7 linked regions of the Homo sapiens genome follow. The protein of the gene in region 2 purifies or fractionates together with the protein of the main gene of each other region. This does not show direct contact. Each region holds a gene or a part of one and is shown on either strand. Other genes may lie near its edges. The genes, in order: LACTB2, MDH1, SUCLA2, REXO2, ME1, PGM2 and PGD.

Region 1 (3,500 bases), on a different chromosome or scaffold from region 2:
TTGTAAAAGGCAATTTGAGACCCTTTCTGATCTGAGCTTATCTTACCTATCCAACTTTATCTCCACTCTTCCTAGCCAGTATTTTGCAGTAGAAAGTTGGTAGCATTATGTTGTCACACATATGTCATGCTCATTCTCATTTTAATGCTTTATTTTTTTGAGACAGAGTCTCGCACTGTCGCTCGGCCTGGAATGCAATGGCGTGATCTTGGCTCACTGCAACCTCCGCCTCCTGGGCTCATTCGATTCTCCTGCCTCAGCCTCCCGAGTATCTGGGACGTTAGGTGCACACCACCACACCTGGCTAATTTTTTTGTATGTTTAGTAGAGATGGGGTTTCACTATGTTGGCCAGACTGGTCTCGAACTCCTGACCTCGTGATCCTCCCACCTTGGCCTCCCAAAGTGCTGGGATTACAGGTGTGAGCCACCACGCCTGGACTTAATGCCTTTTCTAATGCTGTTCCCCTTACCTGCAAGTCCTTCTCTGTACCTTTACCCATCCTGCTCATTCTGTAAGTCACACCTCAAGTTCTATCATATTTATAAATCCTTTCCTAACTCTCTCTGAACTCCTGCTGCCTTTATTAGCCGAATTGTCCATTTAATATTCATTAAATGGTACCAAGTATAGTTCTTTGTTTCATGTTTGTAAGTTTTAGTTTCCCAATCAGGACAGCTTTTAAGAACTTTGATATCACAGTGGTTGTATTCAGTATACCTAGTATACTGGTTAGTTAATTGGCACTCAATTGTTAATTGGTTAATTAATTTATTTTCTTTGTGTCAGTGAAGGGTGGTATAGATTTAGCTTATTTTAAAGGTTTAATATCTTAGCCACTGGTTTGGGGCTTCATTTCAGTACTTGTAGCAAGGACCTCATGCTTTCGTTATTAATTAATGTTTATCCTTTTGTTATTAATTACTGTCATGACACCTTTGCTACATGTTAGGCACCTGGATAGAGAAGAGTTTCCAGGTTCTGTATTAGTGCCTCTTCAACACTTGTCAGGATGCCGAAGCTAGCTACTTTTAAATTTTTTGTATAAACTAGGACTGACTCAAAAAATAGAGGCTTTCATGTAGACCTAGAGGGGCATGAAAGAATGAAGAGCTGTTTGGTTGAAAGATATGAAATATTTACATCCCAGAGATAACCTGCTGTAATTCATCCCATTTTCTGTTGTCTCTTAATGTTAATATTTTATGCAGTCATTCACAAGTGTTAGCTCTATGAAAGTTGATCTCTTAAAAGGCTTAATTATAAAGTGTGAATTAATATATTTTATATGTTTTATGACTAGACACTACCTATTGCATTAAAAAACTCCCACGGAATCCTCAGAGAGAAGAAATTATAGGAAATGGAGAGCAACAATATGTTTATCTGAAAGATGGAGATGTGATTAAGACTGAGGGAGCCACTCTAAGGTAAGTAAATGTCCCTTAGCCAGGGAAGGTGAAGAGTCTGTGTATGTGTGTTATAGAAAAGGATGGAAGGATCCCAGCATTTTGGGAGGCTGAGATGGGAAGATCGTTTGAGCCCAGGAGTTCAAGACCAGCCTGGGCAATACCAAAAAAAAATTTAATTAGCTGAGCATGGTGGCACATGCCTATAATCCTGCTATTCAGGAGGCTGAGATGAGATGATTGCTTGAACCTGGGAAGCAGAGGCTGCAGTGAGTCAAGATTGTACCACTGCATTCCAGCCTGTGCAACCGAGTGAAACCCTGTCTCAAAAAAAAAAAAAAAAAAAAATAGAAGATCTGTGCATATGTGCTGGTATGTGTAAAGAGTACATCAGGAAGGATACAAAAGAAATCCAATAAACATTGCTTACTCTGGGAGGAGAAAATGAGTTGCTTGAGAAATGAGAAAAGAAAGACTTCACTCTTTATTAAATTGTTTATTTGAATCATATGATTACCATTGTTTTAAAAAATAAAATTTACACTTTAAAAAATAAGTGTTGTCTCCCAAGGAGGCTTAGGGATCTACCTATCAATTCAATTCAGGGCTTTCCCATATTCTCACTTCCCAAAGATGACCCATACCTAAATTAAATAAGTTTTAGGCCTGACCGATCATACCTCATGACCTATCTGAGGGTTTCAAAATGGTATTTCAAACTCAGTTATTGTAAAACTGAACTCCTCTCTCCCCCACAATCTGCACCTGTTTTCTGATCTCAGAACATCCACTTTTCTCAGTATGTAAGACTTTACTCATTCTTCTAAGACAGAGGCTTCAGGATTACCTTGCACTGCTCTTCACCTTTACCATCCCCCTCCCCTTGCCCACCACACTAATCAGGTTAGTTTTTACATCAAAAATATTTGTCAGCTGACACAAACAAATGGAAACACATCCCAAGTTCATCTCTGGGTAGGATCAGTATTGTGAAAATGACCATACTGGCAAAAGCAATCTACAAATTCAACACAATCCCCATCAAAATACCACCATCATTCTTCACAGAATTAGAAAAAACAATTCTAAAATTCATATGGAACCAAAAAGAGCCCACATAGCCAAAGCAAGACTAAGCAAAAAGAACAAATCTGGAGGCATCACACTACCTGATTTTAAACTATACTGTAAGGCCATAGTCACCAAAACAGCATGGTACCAATATAAAATAGTCACATACACCAATGGAACAGAACAGAGAACCCAGAAATAAACCTAAATACTTACAGCTAACTGATCTTTGACAAAGCAAACAAAACCATAAAGTGGGGAAAGGACATCCTTTTCAATAAATGGTGGCGGGATAATTGGCTAGCCACATACAGAGAATGAAACTGGATCCTCATCTCTCACCTTATACAAAAATCAACTCAAGATGGATTAAGGACTTAAACCTAAGACCTGAAACTATAAAAATTACAGAAGATAACATTGGCAAAACCCGTCTAGACTTTGGCTTAGGCAAGATTTCATGACCAAGAACCCGAAAGCAAATGTATTAAAAACAAAGATAAACAGTTGGGACTTAATTAAACTAAAGAGCTTTTGCATGGCAAAAGGAACAAACAGCAGAGTAAACAGAAAACCCACAGAGTGGGAGAAAATCTTCATAATCTATACATCTGACAAAGGACTAATATCCAGAATCTACAATGAACACAAATCTGTAAGAAAAAAACAAGCCCATCAAAAAGTAGGCTAAGGACACAGTTCTCAAAAGAAGATATGCAAATGGCCAACAAACATGAAAAAATACTCAACATCACTAATGATCAGGGAAATACAAATCAAAACCGCAATGCAATACCACCTTACTCCTGCAAGAATGGCCATAATCAAAAAATCAAAAAACAGTAAATGTTGGTGTGGATGCGGTGAACAGGGGACACTTTCTACACTGCTGGTGGGAATGTAAATTAGTACAACCACTATGGAAAACAGTGTGGAGATTCCTTAAAGAACTAAAAGTAGAACTACCATTTGATCCAGCAATCCAGCTACTGGGTGTCTACCCAGAGGAAAAGAAGTCAT
Region 2 (3,500 bases):
TTTATAGAAAAGTTACAACCATATTACAGAGACTGACTCCCATATATCTTTTTTTTTTTTTTTTTTGGTACCTCTTTTGACAAGCTGTAGACAAGATACTTCATTGTCTCTAAGTAGTGCAGTGCTGGCAAATATTTCTCACGAACAAGGACGCTTTGAAGAAGTGGAATTACTGTGCAAGGAGTACTTTACCTCCAAATAGCCTGCAATTTAGCAGTCTGAACAATCTTCTAATCTTTTACTGGCACCTGTGGATTTCTATTAAACTCATTTATACTATTTTCTGTGATGACAGAAAATAAGTTAACTATTTAAAATGAAGTGCACAGAAAGCAAAAAATGCAGATATCTATGAAATGTTATTGATAGAACATTATAATGGGCAACTTAAAAAATCTTAAAAAATTTTCTTTCACCTTTTTTTGAAAGATAGGAAAGTATATGGAAATCAGTTAAACCTTTAACCGGCAAGCCTATTTGCTGGGTGACAATTAAGTTCTAGTTAATTGATAGTTCACTAATAAAAGAAGGTTTGGCTGGGCGTGGTGGCTCACACCTGTAATCCCAGCACTTTGGGAGGCCAAGACAGGTGGATCACCTGAGGTCAGGAGTTCGAGACCAGCCTGGCCAACATGGTGAAATCCCGTCTCTACTAAAAATACAAAAATTAGCTGGGTGTGGTGGCGTGCAACGGTAGTCCCATCTACTCACGAGGCTGAGACAGGAGAATCGCTTGAACCCGGGAGGCAGAGGTTGCAGTGAGCCAAGATTGCACCACTGCACTCCAGCCTGGGTGACAGAGCAAGACTCCGTCTCAAAAAAATTAAAAAAATTAATAAAAAATAAAAAAGGCTTACTGTAATATTAAGACATATTAGAATCTAAAGTAAATAGTTTGAACACAAAGAGAGAACTATAAGTCATACTGACTCAATTCTTCAAGAGACAAGCATATTAAAATTCCTCTGCATTAAGAAAATCTGAGCATTCAGAAACCACTATCTTCTATTCCTGAGAATAAACTTACCTTACAGCTAGCTATCTCCTTTCACAATCACACACAAATTTAAATGTCTAAATAAATATTCCCACGCAGCAAAAATGCACCAGAAGATCCTGTGCCTTCTCTATATGTTTAAGAACTAATACTAAATTTTCACGTTATACTAATAGGAAAAATATTTTTGAGCACTCTGAATATAGATTTCTATACTGTAAGAAAAAACCCAGAAAGGGAGAGCTTATCAAGCAAAACTCTAGAGCCGTATTTACTGATGATTGTACAGAACTAGAAAAAAGGGCAAATAATTTTGGTTTTGCTTAAATGCTAAAAGCATAAGTTTCAAATGCTAATAATGAAAAATCCCATAAAATACAGCATTGGTCACCTTAACTGACTTCTTGGCGTATTTATCTAAGGCTGCACCCTGGGATTTGAAGATTTTCACATTTGCTTTCAGTAAATCTTTTCTCTCCATGCCTTCCCTTCTTGGCATGGAGCCCACAAGAATGGCCACATCCAGGTCTTTGAAGGCAACGTCTTCTTTATCTGTTGCGATGACATCTGTGGACATGGCAATAAATACGCAGAGCTACTTAAACATCAAAGTTTGAAGTTTTCTTTTTCATATTGAATCTACCCATTAATTCTTTCACTTGTTGCAAGTGTTTACATATCACACTGATATACATTTCAGGAGCCTGAGAAAGATAATATATTAATTTAACAATCATAACATTAGAAATGTCAATAGATTTATTTTGCTTTTCCTGTTTCAATAATTACTTAAATGTCAAAACTCCATAGCTTTTATCTTTTATAATCATATATGATGCAAGGTATAATGATGACTTTTGAAGTGACACTTGTTATTCACACTAATTACCACACAACACAAAAGAGCAACTAATTCACCTAACCTTTAAATTACAATTACTTTAAGGTCTAAGACACCAATCACAAATTTAAAAATAATAAATGTTTATTGAGGAGTTTTGTGCCAGGATAATGCTAAGAGATTTATATTACTATCAAATTTAATCTTCTGATTTTATAGATGGAGACACTGAGGTTTAAAGAGATTAACTCGCCACCATCAAAAGATAATGGAGCTGTAATTCCAGCCTAGGTTGGTCCAGAGTTCAACCACTATGCTCCAGTGCTAGTACAATAAGCAAACATCACTTGCTTTTTGACTAAAGAACATAAGTCATCGCACTTCTTTGTTGATTGTATTAAAAAAGCTATGACCAACATTCAGCATTTTCACTGGAAAATTGGCTAGTTGCATCATAGTCAAGGCTGCCATAAGTCTGAAAATGGGCATAGACAGGAACACCAGTTGGAGAAAAAAAAATTATCTTCCTCTTTCCCAGTCACATGTCCTTATTTGCTGAACTTTCCCTTCCCTGTCATATTCATATCTGGCAGAGGACAAACCAACAGCAATCTGGGCCCTTTAGAGAAAAAGCACAGGGAACTCAGCAGAGAAAGGAATACAAATGGGAAAAAGCAGCAAAGCTGATTTGGAAAGAGCTGTGGGTGAGAAAAGGGAACCAACAGAATAGTGTGGGCAGTCATGTATTCTTCCACAGAACTTTGCAACCAAAAGACTTAGATGGCAGAGTATCCCTTCTAGCAAATGTTTATTCAACAGATGAAGAATTTTAAGGAAAGTTTTTCTTGGAAGGTATGTATTATTTTGCTTTGTGCAAACTTCTAGGAGAGTATCATTAATTAATCCTTACCAAAAGAAAGACTATGATGAAGAAATAGCTGAAGAAAAATATTTAAATTAATTTAGAATATTTTAATAAACTTTTCGATCAAATTTAAGGCTTCCTTATTATATCTGTGTTATAGTTCAATGATTTGCAAAGGCCCTTAGCTGAGCTCTTCTGGGTTTTTTCAAACTATAGAGCATATGGTAAGGACAATTTACACTATGTCTCAACCTGATGATTGGTAGATGGGATGGGGACCGTGTAAGAGGAACCAACCAACTTCCAGAGCAATGTATAGCTATGAAGGACATCCTTCAAAACTGAGAAAGTTTTCCATTACAGGATGCTACTATTACCAGTTAAGCAGACTCCATAACAACACAATGTAGACAATTCCTACGTTGTCTATAATGTGTGTGTGTGTAGACAATTTCAGGTGTATAACCCTTGTGCAATATTACACTTAACTGGTATAATAAATTATATACACACACACATTGGGGAAAAAAGGATAGTCCTTTACCTGACATTGATTGTTGCTCATTTCTTACCCTTATTTATCCTTGGTATACATAAGTAGTTAATAAACAGTGGTAGTTCAAAATAAAAAAATCCTCTTATGAAATAATTTCTAATTGAGAGCCTTTAACAAAAACCTAAAACCTGTATTTTGTAAGAAATCAAATACCATAAAATCCCTTCTCTACTCCCCAACCCACCTTTCAGGAGGGGAAGGGCACAGTCTTGCAGTTCCATTAGGACACCGTCCAGGACAC
Region 3 (3,500 bases), on a different chromosome or scaffold from region 2:
TTAATGTTCTACATGAAATCCGTACTGGGGCTTTCAAATATATACCCAGTTGCTTCAAAAAACAAGCTAGTTAACACACAGATTCAGCTTGTAAAACCTAATACCCTCGAAAAACAGATAATTCTAGTATAAAATGATTATCAATGCTCTCTTCCAAACACCAGGTCTATAAAGGGATTTTCTCTTCACCAGAAGCTTTATGTTCAACATTTTAGGTTCCATAAAGAGAGGAGAGCTGTGCTAATGTAATACTCCTTAAAACCATATTGTTTGCTACTTAATGTCATCCCTCAATTTACCAAATATTGAATCATATAGTGAAACAAACCCGAAACTATTAAAAAAAAAAAAACAAACCCAAGAAGTTGAGAAAACAGAAGATGAGGCAATGGATACACATTCTTCTAGTGGGTTCAGCAACTTTCTCTTTCATTAGAATATTTTACTATGCTAGATATAATTTTCTCAATCTGGAGATGATCCAGAGATGATTTAAGCTGCTTTTAGTGAATTAACAATTTGAGAATCCCATGAAATTTATTACAGCAGAATTTTTCCTATAATTTTAAGATCATGATATTATATATCAAATTTTACGGCATTAAAGAAGCTGTTTTTTAAATGACATAAATATCATGCTCATGACATACAAACAGATTATAATTTGTACTTTTAAAATCTTTCCCACATAAATAGAAACAATAATGGACTTTTGAAATTGAATGTCATAAATTTATCCCGTATGTATCATGTCTACAATTACTCACTTGAAATGACCTTTCCATTGTTATTGCAAAGTAGTATTCTCTCCTGGGATATTTTCGCTCACAGACCAATACTTGATTGCATATTCTGCCCTTTTCTCCCGTTTGCTTGGTAAACAATTTTTTCCCAATCATTTGTGAAGAAACAGCTTTTGCTTCTTCTGGACTAAAATAAGAAAAAGAACTCAAATTTTTCTTTCCTCCAGTTGAGAAAAAGCAAATCCACATAATAGCCAAAATTTTATCTCATCTAATATTTAAATTTCAGTATTTTCATCAATTCAATAAGTAATCTTTAATCAGTCTTTAACAAGGATGATTTTTCCTTAAAAAATGTGACTTACGAGAAAACTATCTTCACTCCTCCTTTGAGGCCACTTTCAAATGTTCCTTTTCCTCTACCACCAGCTAAAACCTGTGCCTTTATCACGACATCTTTTGAACCTAGAAGAAAAACACTTCTATTAAATATGAAGCATGGAGCAGCATGCCAGACATAGTATTTTGTTATTTAACATACATATTGACAGGTGTTATTAAATCAAGTCTAATTTATTCACAATGTCCAAAAATAAGGCATTCTCTTTATGTAGATTTTCTAGATTAGAACACTAAAATAATCACTGTCTAAAAGGCCCACAATTTTCAAAATTCGTCACTTACATTAAACCATTTCTTTTTTTTTTTTTTTGAAACAGAGTCTCGCTCTGTCGCCCAGGCTGGAGTGCAGTGGCGCGATCTCGGCTCACTGTAAGCTCCGCCTCCCAGGTTCACGCCATTCTCCTGCCTCAGCCTCCCGAGTAGCTGGGACTACAGGCGCCCGCCACCATGCCTGGCTAATTTTTTTGTATTTTTAGTAGAGACAGGGTTTCACCATGTTAGCCAGGATGGTCTCGATCTCCTGACCTCATGATCTGCCCACCTCGGCCTCCCAAAGTGCTGGGATTACAGGCGTGAGCCAGTGCTGGGATTACAGGCATGAGCCACCGCACCTGGCCACATTAAACCATTTCTTAAAAGTAAACTGAAAATAATTTAACCATTTCTTGACACTTTGGAAAGTGTCATCTAGAACTCTGGAAAGTATCAAAAGTACAAAATTGAATTTCATGTCTTCCTAACACGTCCCTCCCTCTCTATTCACATGTAAACTTGCTGTCCTGAGAACATCTGAGTTATATCGCTATAGCAGGAATATGTCATGATTTGGGGGATATTACCATTACCAGTATTGATACTGATTTATACTGTCCCACTAAGAGAAAGTTCTATTAAAATACATTATTGAGCAGTACTGCATGAGTAGTACTATCAGGAGTTATTAAGGTATCTGTATCAAAAGATTTCAGAATTCTATGCTTGCAAAGCTTATGCATATTTTTAAATAAATGGACTGAATTTTTCTTCTTTAACAGGTAGACTGATTACTATTTATCCCTTTTCCTCTCCTTTCTAATTTGCTGTGGAAAACCAGCAAACTGGCTGTTTAGCCTAGATAGTACTCATCATTCATGATCAAGAGTAAATGGGCCCGGTGCGGTGGCTCACTCCTGTAATCCCAGCCCTTTGAGAGGCTGAAGCAGGCGGGTCACATGAGGCCAGGAGTTCGAGACCAGACTAGCCAATATGGTGAAATCTCATCTCTATTAAAAATACAAAAATTAGCCAGGCATGGTGGTACATGTCTGTAATCCCAGCTACTTGGGAGGTTGAGGCACAAGAATCACTTGAATCCGGGAGGCGGAGGTTGCAATGGGCCAAGATTGTGCCATTGCACTCCAGCCTGGAGGACAGAGCAAGGCTGTCTCAAAAGAGTAAATGCTCTGGGTGATGGGTATCCTAAATGCCCTGAATTGATCATTACACACTCTATGCATGTAACAAAATATAACATGTACCACAAAAATATTATGTATCAGTTAAAAAAAAAGAGTAATACCTCTTAGAAAGGCATTCTCTGTGTACCAGACAGGCAGAATTCAGAGCCTCCTCATTTTGCCTCTCATAGCATTTTGCCCACACTGGCAGGGTGGCACCAACTATACATTATGGCAAAATAACCTTTGAGATCAGGGCTAAAGGTCTCACTGTATTCATTATATCCCAAGCACAAGGAAGTCTCTGGGATATAACAACTACTCCATAAACATGGATTTGAACAGACTGAAGTAGAGTCCTCTACAACTAGGATGTCACTCCACGATGCATTTATCAAGCAGAATGAGAGGAAGCTCCCACCTAATCAGATGAACCAACCAAATCAATGAGGTAGGAAATGGAGTTTGAAACCAAACAAAAACAACCTAAAGTTTACACATTAACAATTATTTTAAAAGAACATTTAGAAAATTACTGATGTAAGCCTTCACCAGAAATACATGCTATTTAAACCAGATGATGACCCTATGCGTAGTCAGCCAAGAGAGTGTTTAAAAAACTTGTCTTTCTCAAACCCCACTTCCATTCAGCCAGGAAATCATACTGGTTCTATCTTCAAATTTATCCAGAATCTTCACCATTCCTCATCACCTGCAGTTTAGACTCTGATCCCAACCACCACTATCTCTTAACTATATGACCTTTGTCCCCCACAGAATATTCTCAAGGCAGCAGCCAAAGCAGGCACACCATTCCTCTACTTAAAACCTTGCACTGAATGCCAGTCTCACTCAGTTAAATGCCAAAGTGCTTACAATGGCCTAGAAGACCTTATAATACCCTCTACACTTTTTATCT
Region 4 (3,500 bases), on a different chromosome or scaffold from region 2:
GAAGCATACTGCATCTCTATATTTCTAGTATTATACAACAGGATATCAAAATTCATAAGTTGTATTTGAAATGGAGATGATTTTTTAAAATTCAAACAATTCCTAAAAGCACCTCTATATTTCTAAATCAGGTTTGGGTAAATGTGATTAGCTTACAAGTACAGATTTCCAAGTACTTAGTCAGTTTAGCTCCTTATAAATTTGTAAATGACCTCTCATGAACAGAAGGACAAATCTATCATTCCACATGCTTGATGTAATGCACAAATCTATTTGTTACTTTCTAAGGTCATACCTGATATGCAAACTTTCTCCCAGTGTCACAAAATTCACACCACTAACACTAAAAATTTAACTGAATCACATAGGTAGATAAACCTTTATTTACAATCCAAATTTTTAAACAAATCATATGCATATTTATGTCCCCAAAAAGTAACTTATACTAAAAACACTAAATTTTAAATGAGACCTTTAAAACAGATATCAGCCACATTGGCTGGCGGAAACATTTACACAATATATGCTCTAGTACTTAATGCCAAAACTTATTTTTATAAATGTTTAAGAACAGTATTAGCTACCACATCGACTTACATATACAAACGTACATATACCTTCAGAGAAACATTAACTTCCCTCTGGCAATGTCACCCTTTTAAAAATCCTGGTAGAACAGGCCTGGTCTCTTTAGAAAGTCAATGACACAGGGGAAAAATAATAGGTGGAAAGTTTTACATTAAGAGACTAAAGAAATATAACTAAATGAAATGCACGAGCCTTGACTGAATCCTGGTTCAAAAACAAATATTTTGGGGAACATCTAATGTGGACTAGATATCATATGATACTGAATAATGTTTAATTATCTTCAATGCAATGACATTGTATTACATAAGAAAATGTCTTTATCTTAGGAGATGTTTGATGAAGTATTTAGGAATGAAGTGTCCTGATGCCTGCAATTTCCTTTAAAATGTCCAACAAAAAATAGGTAAAACAAATACGACACAAGGTTAACAATTACTAAATCCACTCCTCTGTGCATGTGAAATTTTTCCATCATAAAAATATGGGAGAAATTCTTATTGAGTAAGTTTGTGTTTCCCAGATCTCATGTCAGGTTTCAGGGCATTTTCCCAATACTCATGCTATAAACTACACAGAGAAACTTGAACAGAAAAGTTAAGATGTGTAACCCAAAGCAGGGTTAAGTGGAAGACATGGATGGGCTCGGCTAGTCTTTCTGGAACTGCAGTCTCTTGAACCACTACATATGGAAGACTATAAGATATACACAGGATTGGATTTTACCTGCAAGTGGACAGAGCCCTGGAGGAGTCTGCTGTCGTACAAAGGACAGAAATTCATACTCTGCCTGCTGCAATGTAATTGTACTCTCCTTCACTGCCTTGGTAAGGCCAGACTGCAAGAGAGAATCCCCAGCCCCCCACCAAAAACACATGTAAAGTCAGTTTTCAAAGGCATCCAGAAATGAAATTTCACTTTTAAAATGGGCAAATATAACCACAAATAGACCATTTTTAGAGCTCAAGTTCAAATTGCAACTGCCATCTTTGCACCATTTTTTTTTCTTCAAGAATCCAAGCCAACTTAGTTATGATCCTGACTGTTAATAGCATGTCCACAGTCAAAAAAGACGGTGTTCAAAGTCCAAGGATATTAACCTCTGGGAAGAAACAACTATTAACAGGAGAGCAGCAATCCCCCTTCTCTGAAAGTTGATGTCTAACCTTATCCAAAAGACTGACTTGAGTAATACTTGACAATCCACAATGCGTTCGCGACAGACTGAATGTAGGAGAGAAAAAAAAGAGGACATTCAGGAGAAGATGATCTCGAGAGGTCCCAAAGATGAAAAGTAAACAAGCAAGCAGTTTCCCAGGCTTGCCATGCAATCTTCTCTAAGCCTTTTTAAAATACCATCCAACAATGGTATCGGATTCAGGTGTGGGAGCAAAAAGCTTGCTACTGATCCCCAAAGCAGCAATCCTGTTATTTGGTAATGTTACCTTCCCGTGATGCTCCTTACACCAATCTGACATGCTGTCCAGCAACTCATCTGGTTGTTTTATAATCAGGTTAGGACCCTGTGGATGGGAAACGCCATCAGTCACCAAGAAACAACAGGAATAACCTTACTTTCAGAGGGAAAGCTTAAGCTGTTTTAAGGACTAAATATACATATCAGAGAAAGTAAGAGATAAGGATACTTTAAGTGTTCCCCCTTCATTCCAGCACTGTTCATTAAGGCAAAATAGAACATACGAACATACACACACCACTGAAAACTCTAATCCTACAAATAGATGACACAGATATCTATCAAGGGTCAGCAAACTATGGCCCCACACTTCAGCTATTTATTAATAGCTAGAAAGCTAAGAATGATTTTTACATTTGTAAAAGATTGTTTAAAAAAAAAAAAGAACATATGACAAGAACATATGACTGCACTCAAAGCCTAAACAATTTAATAACTTGCTCTTTCCAGAAAAGTCTGTCAACCCTTGATTATGAGTTCATTTTGAAAAGTGTCTAGGCCAAGCATGGTAATCCCAGCACTCTGGGAGGCCGAGGTGGGAGGATCACTTGAGGCCAGTAGTTCAAGACCAGTCCAGGCAACATAGCAAGACCTCATTTCTACAAAATTAAAAAAAAAAAAAAAAAAATTAGGTGGGCCTGGTGGCACACCCCTACAGTCCTAGCTTCTCAGGAGGCTGAGGCAGGAAGATCACTTGAACCCAGGAGTTCGAGGTTACAGTGAGCTACATGCCACTGCACTCCAACCTGGGTGACAGGGTGAGACCCTATCTCTTAAAAAAAAAAAGTATCTATATTGCAGGTGAAAAAAACAATTGCAAAACCATGTATGTATAGGTATGATTTCATTTACACTTGTTTTAAAAAAAACACGCATTTATATAAACATACAAAATATCAAGACAATACATAAACTTGGAGTAAGAAGGAGCAATAGAACAGGACAAAAATCCAATAGTTCACTACACACATACTTTGGATAGTTACACTGTTTTAACAGTATTTTTATATTTAAAAAAAAATTAAAGAGGTAATTGTTGATATCCAAAACACAAAGTAGCCCTCAAATTCTCAGCTCCATTTCATAGAACATCCAAGTATGAGTCTCTCAGATAAGTCCTGGCAGTTAACAGTAGCTACGGCATTAAAGCAAGTCACCTCAGCTTCTCCCTCTGTAAGATAGTGATAATAATAAACTGTACCCCTTCCCTCATAGAAATGTTAACAGGATAAAAGAAATTATAGATATGAGCTCTTTGAACTCTCTGATAGAAAAGTATTCCATAAATCCAAGGTATTATTACTACTAAGGTGGTAAAAACAGTTCACAATCACTGAAAGAAATGGCTAGAATTTAATTAAAATACGCCTGACATCCTACTACTAAAAAGGAGATTTAGCCAAACAAGAAAACTGGTGTTGGTAATCTCTGCGAA
Region 5 (3,500 bases), on a different chromosome or scaffold from region 2:
TATCTGGAGTAATCAAGCCTAGAAAAGTGCTGAACGTGCCAGGTATTAACAGGCTGAGTTAGAGGAGGGGGCCATACGCTTCATCTCAGATCAGTAAGAGAAAGACGACAGGACTAAAGTTAAAAATCTAGGTCTCTACAGGGTACTGTCGCTTGAGCGAACGTGTAGTTTTTTGAATTCAAAAAGGCTAAATTATACCTCAAAAATTGGTAGTAAAAAAAACAATCAGGTCAAAATAAGGGGTAGGGGAGAAGGGAGAGGAGAAAATGCTTACCTATGAGGGCAGTTGGTTTTATTTCTTGAACAATGGCTTCTAGGTTCTTCATTTCTTCATGTTCATGGGCAAACTTCTCTTTCTCTTGTGTTAAGGAAGCACGTCCCTAAGTAAAGCCAGTAAGAAAAAATTAAGAATCTGCCAAACATGTGAGGGTCAATAAATTTCGGTACATATATTACAAATATTTATGCTTAACATTTTTATGTATGATGTGTTACAGCTATTCTTAAAATCTCTTCTTCAATTGTCAGAATGTTATTTCATTCATTCGTTTAACAAATATTTATATGTCAATGTTCTAGGCAATGGAGATGTAACAGTGAACAAAACAAAGTCCTTCATTTAATTGATATTAAAAATCCTAATTTTACAGACATGTGAGAACTAGCATTAACAAATGGCCATGCAAAATATAATTTAAATAATTATATTGTTCGTCACACATTGTGTTTTATAGCAGGTCTCAGAATTTGGAGTTGGCTTCAGCTTTAGCCCTACCAATTTATGCTACTGACTAAGAAAAGAATTTGAAGTCATATTTATGTCATTGTTAGATTTTCTCAGTAAGTATGCATTTTATATGTTTTTGTTTTTAATGTTCTGATTATGAATGCGCCATGTGTTATCTAGTAAACATCTAATTATAATATTCTAGCTGCAAATTTTAAAGATTTGACTACATAATGGATCACTGCCTAATTTTATATGGTACTTGATGACTTACAAGTTGTTTTCACATATTTCATTTGATCCCCTCAACAATTCTGAGAAGCAGGACAAGTATAAGTATAGTCATTTTACATATGCGGAAACATGTTCAGAGGTTTTAAGGGACTTGCTCAAGGCAAGAGATTGTACTAGAACTCAAAGCCTTTTCAATATAGCACAGAATCACCCCGGGCAAAAACTTAACAAATAGTATGTCATAGTCTTTGCAAATTGTTAATAATGAAGATAGTACAATTTTCTTTCTTTAAAGGGTATTATCATTTTATTTCTGTTGCTTTTGTTTGTTTGAAATGAGGTCTCATTTTGTCATGCAAGTTGGAGTGCTGTGGATCAGAGGTCACTGCAGCCTTGAACTCCTGGGGTCAAGGGATCCTCCCACCTAAGCCTCTCTAGTAGCTGGAACTACAGGCATGCACCACCATGCTTGGCTAATTTATCATTTTTTTTTAGAGATGGGGGTCTCGCTATATTGCCCAGGGTTGTCTCGAACTTCTGGCCTCAGGAGTGATCTTTTCGCTTCAGCCTCCTGAGTCACTAGGATTATAGGCGTGAGCCACCATGCCAGGCTCTGTTTTTTTTTGTTGTTGTTGTTGTTGTTGTTGTTTTTAATTTTGTTTTGTTTGTCTTTTTTTTTTGAGACAGAGTTTTTGCTCATGTTGCCCAGGCTGGAGTGCAGTGGCGCGATCTCGGCTCACCGCAACCTCCGCCTCCCGGGTTAAAGCTATTCTCCTGCCTCAGCCTTCCAAGTAGCTGGGATTACAGGCATGTGCCCGGCTAATTTTATATTTTTAGTAGAGACAGGCTCTGTTTTTAAAAGCAATATACTGAATTATTAAAAAATTTGAAACATATGAACCTCTTTGTGCTTGTCTCCTCATCTGTAAATAAGGATAATAAGGACTTCTACCTCATCAGGTTGTTTGTGGGGTAAATGAAATGTAATGCATGTAAAACACTCAGGACTGTACCTGGTTTATAGTAAGAGCTCTATGCTAGTTGTTGTTGCAATTAAAATTTTTGTGAAGAAGAAAAAAATCATAATTCCAGCACTTAAAGTTTTGGTATATTTTCTCCTATTAATAATCTGCTGTAGGCCAGGCGCAGTGGCTCATGCCTGTAATCCCAGCACTTTGGGAGGCTGAGGCGGGCGGATCACGAGGTCAGGAGATCGAGACCATCCTGGTTAACACGGTGAAACCCCGTCTCTACTAAAAATATACAAAAAATTAGCTGGGCGTGGTGGCAGGAGCCTGTAGTCCCAGCTACTCAGGAGGCTGAGGCAGGAGAATGGCATAAACCCAGGAGGCAGAGCTTGCAGTAAGCCAAGATCACACCACTGCACTCCAGCCTGGGCGACAGCGAGACTCTGTCTCAAAAAAATAAAAAATAAAAAAAAGAAATGATTAGCCAGTTTTGAGAATCAGTGTACTAAATGATCTATCATATCCCTACCACATGCGTTTTTAAGAGGTTATGTGCTATGTTTTCAAAAAAGTATACAATAATGAGTCTAAAGAAGAAAAGCTATAGAATAAGATAAATTGGAAGTCACAGCTTTTTTGGCTGTCAAGCTGAGATATAATGAAAAATATTTAAATTGCCTAGAATGGGAAACAAATAATAAAAAAGACAGATGAATAATGTATGAAAAGAAAAAGATATATACTTAATCATAAACATCTTTATTAATCATAGTATACCCACTGGCAGCTCCTAGACACTGAAGCCAGAACTTAGCCAGAAGACATTCCATCTAGTAAGAAGCATAAATTACCCATGGCAACACTTTCAAAGGCTTGATTCCTGGTATGACTTACAAGTGCTGAAAGAATGCTGAAAAAAGTCCAGGAATCACGAAATGGTAATACTAGCAATACTGAAGGTCTTACTTGACAAAACAGAAGAAGCAAAAGACACACACACAAAATGTCTCCCAAGTATGTTCTCTACCATTTTCAAAATTGACTTGATGACCTAGTTTAAAGAAACTACTGGAATGTGACAACCTTTTCTAAATCCGGTAATACTGAGGCAACTACCTGTACCTTTGGACTTCTATTTTCTAGACTAATGGCTTATTTTTCTTTATTTTTCAAAATCTGATTTGGAATACATATTCGTTATGCCAATAACTTCAGTTGGTATGGAGATGAGTAGATGTCTTTTCCCTTCATTCTCCCTTTTCAGGATCCCTTGCTGAAATCCTTTTGCCTTCTTTTGGCAAAGTGCATGTGGGCACCTCTCACCTCAGAAATCCCAAATTCTATGATGCATCTTTTCTCTCTCTGTTTTTTTCAAGAGTCTCTAATTACCTCAAACATATTATGGATAGCTGAAACTTTATTTGTGATATTATTACTTTAATCTCCCCTATCCCTTTATATTGTGATGATTCTTACTATATCGTAGAAGATATAACCAGATTTAATTACTACCTTTTCAAAAGCACATGTTTATAGTGGGCATAGGGAGGAGAATGGGGGCAAAGGCTGCC
Region 6 (3,500 bases), on a different chromosome or scaffold from region 2:
ACTGCTATCAATTAAAGAATCGTCCCAAGCTTGAGGCCACGGTTCTAGATTTTCTTCAATAGCTTGAGAAATCCCTTTATCGTGAGGAGAAATGATCTGAGCTCCATTATCCCAATAGACCTAGAGGACCCAGGAACACATTCAGAAGGTTTACAGTTAATGGAAATAAGGCACCTATTACCTATGGTCCCAAAAATTACAGATACAGGATTCCTACAGAAGGATGTACGTGTGGAGTAGAAAAAGGAAAATACCTTATAACCATTATCCTGCTTTGGATTGTGAGATGCAGTTATCATGATTCCAGCACAAAGTTTCAAATGTGATACTGTGAAGGGCTGTAACATAGCAGGAAACAAGAACAAACAGTTTTTAACGAAAATAACCAGATATTCTTAAAATGTCTATTTTATACTGTTCATGCCAACTTGCTCCCTTTTAATAAACATAATATATAAATAGCATAATATTTTTGAGCCACACCCCAGCAGTATGCAATTACCCTTAGAATTAACTGGCTGCTCATAATTCCAGGATGTATTTCCTAATAAGAAAGGTGAGTAATTTCCTCAGTGCCTTCTCATTCCATCTTCTACTTGGTAGAGCTAGAAAATTCTTCAAACACAACGATGGTCTAAGCCTCCATTCCAATGCTTTCAATGCTTCTACCTGAGACAGAAGTTTGTGGATTCAGTTTACTCCCTCCAACTGCTTCTCCCTCTCCTCCTTTCTCATTTGCTTTTAAGGAAAACATTGAGGAAAACACTGAGGGGCCAGGGGTGGTGTCTCACGCCTGTAATCCCACCACTTTGAGAGGCCAAGACAGGTGGATCACTTGAGGTCAGGAGTTCAAGACCAGCCTGGCCAACATGGTGAAACCCTGTCTCTACTAAAAATACAAAAAAATTAGCCAGGCATGGGCGCCTGTAATCTCAGCTACTTGGGAGGCTGAGGCAGAAGAATCACTTGAACCTGGGAGGCAGAGGTTGCAGTGAGCCAAGATCCTGCCATTGCACTCCAGCCTGGGAGACAAGAGCGAAACTCTGTCTCAAAAAAAAAAAAAAAAAAAAAAAATTTGAGGGAATGGAGAATGCTCTTACAGGTTCCTCATTTATCTCTCACTCCAGGGTTAAATATTTATATTTCAACTTAGCTCCCATCTCTACTACTTCCCAAAATGGGAGAAGGGGTTGGATTATTCCCCCTACTGTGGCAAATGACATTGATTACACACAGGCAACCTGAGATTTAAATTGTCCGTCCCCTCCACCCTTTCACCAAGAATCACTGCAGTCATTGAACACCCTGGAAGTTATGTCACATCTCTCAGGTGTTCTGGGCCAAAGAAAAGGGGAGGACGACTCCTCAGTGTGGGCAGAGGATCATGATACACTGGTTCAATTCATGTCTGACATAAAATTAATAGCTATTAACACTTAGTACAGAAGGTAATTAGGATGCTTGAATACATGACAATTTTTCCATCAAACAATGAAACCTGAACTACATTTAGATGTGAATAGAGTGTCTAGCAGGTTATTTACAGCCTAGGGGTGCTGCATCTACCTGTCAGTGCACTAGAGCCGGCAAACACAAAATGAATTGGAACCTCCTTCTGTAGCAATACAGTCTCATTTCTACTAGATGTGACTAACTGCATCCAAATCACATTTTCCAAAACATATTCTCAGCATCTGGCCCAGCTCTTAAAAGTTTTGTCTATGTCAAAGCAACAACTGTCATAGTCCCTACTGTCTTCTTCTTTAGATTGTGCTACATGAAGGATTTGATGAAAGTCTTACTCAAATATGCCGAGCATGCTCTCTGTACTAGCCATGAATAGTATTTAGAATAAAACATTTGTATAAAACAGGGGTGTGCCAGCTTGTCAAAAATATTCATGACAAGACAGGGTTTGAGGTGAATTCAGATTTCGACACAAGAAGTTTCCTAATTGTGATAGCTGAGAAAAAGAACTACAAACCAAATTTAAAAACAGAGAAAAGGCCGGGCGTGGTGGCTCATGCCTGTAATCCCAGCACTTCCGGAGGCCAAGCTGGGTGGATCACCTGAGGCCAGGAGTTCGAGACTAGCGTGGCCAACGTGGTGAAACCTCGTCGCTACTAAAAATGCAAAAATTAGCTGGGAGTGATGGCAGGCACCTGTAATACCAGCTACTTGGGAGGCTGAGGTAGTAGAATTGCTTGAACCCGGGACACGGAGGTTGCAGTGAGCCAAGATCGTACCATTGCACTCCAGCCTGGGCAACAGAGCGAGACTCTGTCTCAAAAAAAAAAATTTGCTGACTCTCTCGAATACCCTTAGAATGCAAAGAAAAGGAAAACTGCAATTTAAAAAAACCAATTCCAATGAATCAAAAGTTGAATACCAGAGAAATATTACTAAGATGTGGGAGAAACATTCCAGGAGAGAAGGAAATGTCTCATACATGCCAAGGAACTCCTCTGTCATTCAAACAGTCCAATCCCAATAGCCCTAAAGACTATAAAATTCAGCCAAGTCCCATCCCTGATCATGTGACAGGAAATTATGAAAGGAAATGGCTACTTACCACAAAGGGGGTTGGCGTTATATCAGAAAAGAGGTACACAGGAATCCCCTGACTGATAAATGTGGTTGCAGCAAGTCGGGCAAACCTGAGAATGCAGAGTGACAGGGAAGAAAAGGAGAGTTGAGTGATCAGGACTGTGAGTGATGGAAAGAAGGAAATGAATGCTGAATGTTCTTTAGGGTGAATGCAGCATCCAGATCAAGGACAGCATTTATTATAATCTTTACCCTGGCATGGGACAGTAAAGCTGGAGGACTCTCAGGAGTCATCTCATTTCACTCTTTTGTTTTATAGAAATGGCACTAAAGCCAAGAAAGGTCAGGCCCCTTTCCCCGGTTCTAACAGCCACTTAGTGGCAGAGCCAGGCTGCTTCCTGGCCTTTCAGCTCTCTGTCTATCTCAGTGGTTCTCAGCCAGGGCAAGTCTGCACCTTCTCCTTCCAGGCATCTGAAATGTCTCGAAACATTTTTGCTTGTCATGCTGGGAAATGGAGAGAGTTGCTACTGGCAGCTAGTAGGGAGAGGTCAGGGGTGCTGCTGAACACCTTACAATGTACCCTACAACCACAACAAAAGATCATCCAGCCACTGTGCAGTCACATGTCAACAGTGCAGAGGCTGAAAATCCCAGCCTAAGCCTATCACAATCCAGCGTACACCACACAGACTGGAATTTGATTAGAGATTGCTTTATTTGAAATATAAAGACATCCTGGAGTACGCATGTGTGTATACACACACACACACACACACCCATACACATATATACATCTTGGTTCCAATCAGCCTTTGAAAGAAAACTTAATTCTTTGACATTTTTCTCAACTTCCACAGAAACTTGCTTAGGGTAAGACGCAGAAAATGGCATCAAATCTTCCTTCAAGCTGGTGTAAAATACGTTACCACAAATAAATGAGCGATTTACTTAGA
Region 7 (3,500 bases), on a different chromosome or scaffold from region 2:
AAAGCCCAGCCTGGTTGGTGTGCTGTAGGTAGATATTCATGTTCAAGGCTCTGTCTCTTCCTGACCTCCGAACTGTTGTCATAAAATCATTCATTCATACACTAAACCATTTGATATGTATTTACTGAATCCCCACTCTCTTCTAGACACATTATAGTCAGTGTTTAATCTGTATACTTACTTAAAAATAGAAATGGGGTCTTGCTATGCTGTCCATGCTGGTCTCAAATTCCTGGGCTCAAGCGATCCTCCTGCCTCAACCTCCCAAAGTGTTGGGATTACAGGTGTGAGCCACTGAGCCTGGTCAGCCCTAAACTTTTAAATAGTGTGCAGCTCTGGCCACAGAGAGGATTATTGAAGATTAAGTAGGCTGGGTGCGTTGGCCTCCTGCCAAGCCAGGAGGCTTTTAGCCCAGGAGTTTGAGACCAGCCTGGGCGACATGGTGAGACTCCATCTCAAAAAAAATTTTTTTTTTTTGAGACGGGGTCTCACTCTGTCCCCCAGGCTGGAGTGCAGTGTTGCGATCTCAGCTCACTGCAAGCTCCACCTCCCGGGTTCACGCCATTCTCCTGCCTCAGCCTCCCGAGTAGCTGGGACTACAAGGCGCCTGCCACAACGCCCGGCTAATTTTTCGTATTTTTAGTAGAGACGAGGTTTCACCATGTTAGCCAGGATGGTCTTGATCTCCTGACCTTATGATCCACCCACCTCGGCCTCCCAAAGTGCTGGGATAACAGGCGTGAGCCACCGCGCCTGGCCTACAAAAAAAATTTTAAAACTAGCTGGGCATTGTGGTTCAAGGAGTTCAAAGTTGCAGTGAGTCATGTTCACACCACTGCAGGAGTTCAGGGTTTCAGTGAGCCATGTTCGCACTCCTGCATTCCAAGCTGGGCAACAGAACGAGACTCTTTTTAGACTATGTTTATTTGGAATAAATTCTTGTTTGTTTTAATTTGCCAAGGTATGTTTCATTTTTGGTCCATCTTAATGCTGGTGTCTGGTTACAGGTACCATTGTTGGATACTGGTGACATCATCATTGACGGAGGAAATTCTGAATATAGGGACACCACAGTAAGTGTTCTTCAGTCCAGATTCTTCCAGGTTCCGAGAACATTCTAGAAAAAAGTGTCAGCATCGCATATGTGACAGTAGGGTGAACTGCCCTGTGGTACTGATTTTTTTGAGATTACTACTGATACAATAGTTCTCAGCCTTTTTTTCTGTTAAGACACACTTAACAGAAGGGCCGGGTGTGGTGGCTCACACCTGTAATCCCAGCACTTTGGGAGACGGAGGCAGGTGGACCAAGAGGTCAAGAGATCAAGACCATCCTGGCTAACATGGCGAAAACCCGTCTCTACTAAAAATACAAAAAATTAGCCTGGCATGGTGGCATGCGCCTGTAGTCCCAGCTACTTGGGAGGCTGAGGCAGGAGAATTGTTTGAACCTGGGAGGCAGAAGTTGCAGTGAGCCGAGATCATGCCACTGCACTCCAGCCTGGGCGACAGAGTGAAACTCCATCTGAAAAAAAAAAAAAAAAAAAAGACACTTGGTGGGTGAGATTCTCAGTCACACATACAACTCAAAGGATGACTAACTCAGATACAGCAGGCTGAGAATTACGTTTTAACTCCTCCCCTTCCCCTTCCAAGTAATCCATGATATGTCAGTCTATAACTGGTTTAGAACCACTCCTCTAATGGTATCAAATGCTGAGGGAATTCCTGTGTGCTCTGAAGTGCTGAATGGCATTAAGTTGTATTACACCTACTCTTCGTTGAGTCTTATTCAAGGTCTTTTCCAGTAAAATGCCAATGTGTGTTTGGCTTAATTATTTTACTTTGGGGATGAGGTAGGTATCGTGAATGTCCATAGTTGTATTGTTTTGTTTTTTAACTCCTACACATAGGGGATTAACTTTCCTGAGTCATCAGTTATTCCTAGATCCTTGGGTCATTTCCTGTAAATGTAGGCTCTCCATTCCTATCTTATACTTCCTCTCATTTATAAGGGAAACATTTTTGGGTAGCATAATGAAACATGGAAGCATAATGAAACATGGAAGCATAATGAAATTATTTTTCTGTCCTTCAGAGACGGTGCCGAGACCTCAAGGCCAAGGGAATTTTATTTGTGGGGAGCGGAGTCAGTGGTGGAGAGGAAGGGGCCCGGTATGGCCCATCGCTCATGCCAGGAGGGAACAAAGAAGCGTGGTGAGTGCCATCAGCACTGTGCCCATCTCTGTACAAGGGAGCTGGACTTTGAGAACGAATAAGCCAGGAGCAGTTCTGCCACCCTGATCTCTGTGGTGCCCTGAGTGTGACAGCTGGGAGATGCTGGCAATTTCTTTTATCTAGACATTTTGTTGCTTTGATATAGTATATGTGCACAATCCTCTTTTGCCTTTTTTCTTCTGTTATTTCTATCAAGACTGATACCTGACGTTCTAAATAGGCTTTTTTTTTTTTTCCCGCCCAGGCAGGAGTGCAGTGGTGAGATCTTAGCTCACTGCACCCCCCGTCTCCTGGGCTCAAGCAATTCTTGTGCGTCAGCCTCCTGAGTAGCTGGGACTACAGGCACATGCCACCATGCCTGGCTAATTTTTTGCCTTTTAGTAGAGACAGGGTTTCACCATGTTACCTTGGGTGGTCTCGAACTCCTGACCTTAGGCGATCTGCCCGCCTTGGCCTCCCAAAGTGCAGGGATTACAGGCATGAACCACCACACTTGGCCTCTAAATAGGCTTTAAGGAAGCAGTTTAGGTAATGTTCTGTGCAATGTCTGGATGTAGGAATAAGGTCTGCCTCTTTTAGCTGATATATAACCCAAAAGTAACTTAATGTGATAATCGTGGGTAACAGGCTGGGCATAGTGGCCCATGCCTGTAATCACTGCCCAGCACTTTGGGAAGCTGCGGTGAATGATCATTTGAGCCCAGGAGTTGAAGACTAGCCTGGACAACATAGCGAGATCCTGTTTCTACAAAAAAGTAAAACAAACATTTTTTTAATTAAAAAATATAAATTGGCCGGGCGTGGTGGCTCACGCCTGTAATCCCAGCACTTCGGGAGGCTGAGGCAGGCAGATCACCAGGTCAGGAGATCTAGACGATCCTGGCCAACATGGTAAATTCCTGTCTCTACTAAAAATACAAAAATTAGCCGGGCATGGTGGCGTGCGCCTGTAGTCCCAGCTACTTGGGAGGCTGAGACAGGAGAATTGCTTGAACCTAGGAGGCAGAGGTTAGTGAGCCGAGATCGCGCCACTGCACTTCACCCTGGCGACAGAGTGAGAGTTTGTTTCAAAAACAAAACAAAACAAAACAAACAAAAAATACACACACACACACACACACACACATATATATAAATAATTGTGGGCAATCCGATATATATATAAATAATTGTGGGCAATCCGCTTGCCCTGGCCTCCCAAAGTACTGGGATTACAGGCGTGAGCCACCGTGCCTGGTCTGAAATATGATTCTTTAAGGCTGG

What was found.
Region 1: the proteins of MDH1 (region 2) and LACTB2 fractionate together in Homo sapiens (co-fractionation; one large-scale study listed by BioGRID). This does not show direct contact.
Region 3: the proteins of MDH1 (region 2) and SUCLA2 fractionate together in Homo sapiens (co-fractionation; one large-scale study listed by BioGRID). This does not show direct contact.
Region 4: the proteins of MDH1 (region 2) and REXO2 fractionate together in Homo sapiens (co-fractionation; one large-scale study listed by BioGRID). This does not show direct contact.
Region 5: the proteins of MDH1 (region 2) and ME1 purify together in Homo sapiens (co-immunoprecipitation; one study listed by IntAct). This does not show direct contact.
Region 6: the proteins of MDH1 (region 2) and PGM2 fractionate together in Homo sapiens (co-fractionation; one large-scale study listed by BioGRID). This does not show direct contact.
Region 7: the proteins of MDH1 (region 2) and PGD fractionate together in Homo sapiens (co-fractionation; one large-scale study listed by BioGRID). This does not show direct contact.

What each region holds. Positions count from the first base shown.
Region 1 is NC_000008.11:70,655,686-70,659,185, reverse strand, and holds part of LACTB2 (endoribonuclease LACTB2), read left to right. Parts: intron 1-1,303; coding exon 1,304-1,430; intron 1,431-3,500.
Region 2 is NC_000002.12:63,595,463-63,598,962, reverse strand, and holds part of MDH1 (malate dehydrogenase, cytoplasmic), read right to left. Parts: coding exon 3,444-3,500; intron 1,565-3,443; coding exon 1,389-1,564; intron 1-1,388. UniProt on the Homo sapiens protein: Catalyzes the reduction of aromatic alpha-keto acids in the presence of NADH. Plays essential roles in the malate-aspartate shuttle and the tricarboxylic acid cycle, important in mitochondrial NADH supply for oxidative phosphorylation.
Region 3 is NC_000013.11:47,987,774-47,991,273, forward strand, and holds part of SUCLA2 (succinate--CoA ligase [ADP-forming] subunit beta, mitochondrial precursor), read right to left. Parts: intron 1,209-3,500; coding exon 1,109-1,208; intron 931-1,108; coding exon 768-930; intron 1-767. UniProt on the Homo sapiens protein: ATP-specific succinyl-CoA synthetase functions in the citric acid cycle (TCA), coupling the hydrolysis of succinyl-CoA to the synthesis of ATP and thus represents the only step of substrate-level phosphorylation in the TCA.
Region 4 is NC_000011.10:114,442,467-114,445,966, reverse strand, and holds part of REXO2 (oligoribonuclease, mitochondrial precursor), read right to left. Parts: intron 2,112-3,500; coding exon 2,034-2,111; intron 1,427-2,033; coding exon 1,315-1,426; intron 1-1,314. UniProt on the Homo sapiens protein: 3'-to-5'exoribonuclease that preferentially degrades DNA and RNA oligonucleotides composed of only two nucleotides. Binds and degrades longer oligonucleotides with a lower affinity.
Region 5 is NC_000006.12:83,228,552-83,232,051, forward strand, and holds part of ME1 (NADP-dependent malic enzyme), read right to left. Parts: intron 381-3,500; coding exon 275-380; intron 1-274. UniProt on the Homo sapiens protein: Catalyzes the oxidative decarboxylation of (S)-malate in the presence of NADP(+) and divalent metal ions, and decarboxylation of oxaloacetate.
Region 6 is NC_000004.12:37,836,686-37,840,185, reverse strand, and holds part of PGM2 (phosphopentomutase), read right to left. Parts: intron 2,658-3,500; coding exon 2,573-2,657; intron 614-2,572; exon of another isoform or gene 527-613; coding exon of another isoform or gene 503-526; intron 339-502; coding exon 255-338; intron 121-254; coding exon 1-120. UniProt on the Homo sapiens protein: Catalyzes the conversion of the nucleoside breakdown products ribose-1-phosphate and deoxyribose-1-phosphate to the corresponding 5-phosphopentoses.
Region 7 is NC_000001.11:10,402,064-10,405,563, forward strand, and holds part of PGD (6-phosphogluconate dehydrogenase, decarboxylating), read left to right. Parts: intron 1-1,007; coding exon 1,008-1,073; intron 1,074-2,097; coding exon 2,098-2,216; intron 2,217-3,500. UniProt on the Homo sapiens protein: Catalyzes the oxidative decarboxylation of 6-phosphogluconate to ribulose 5-phosphate and CO(2), with concomitant reduction of NADP to NADPH.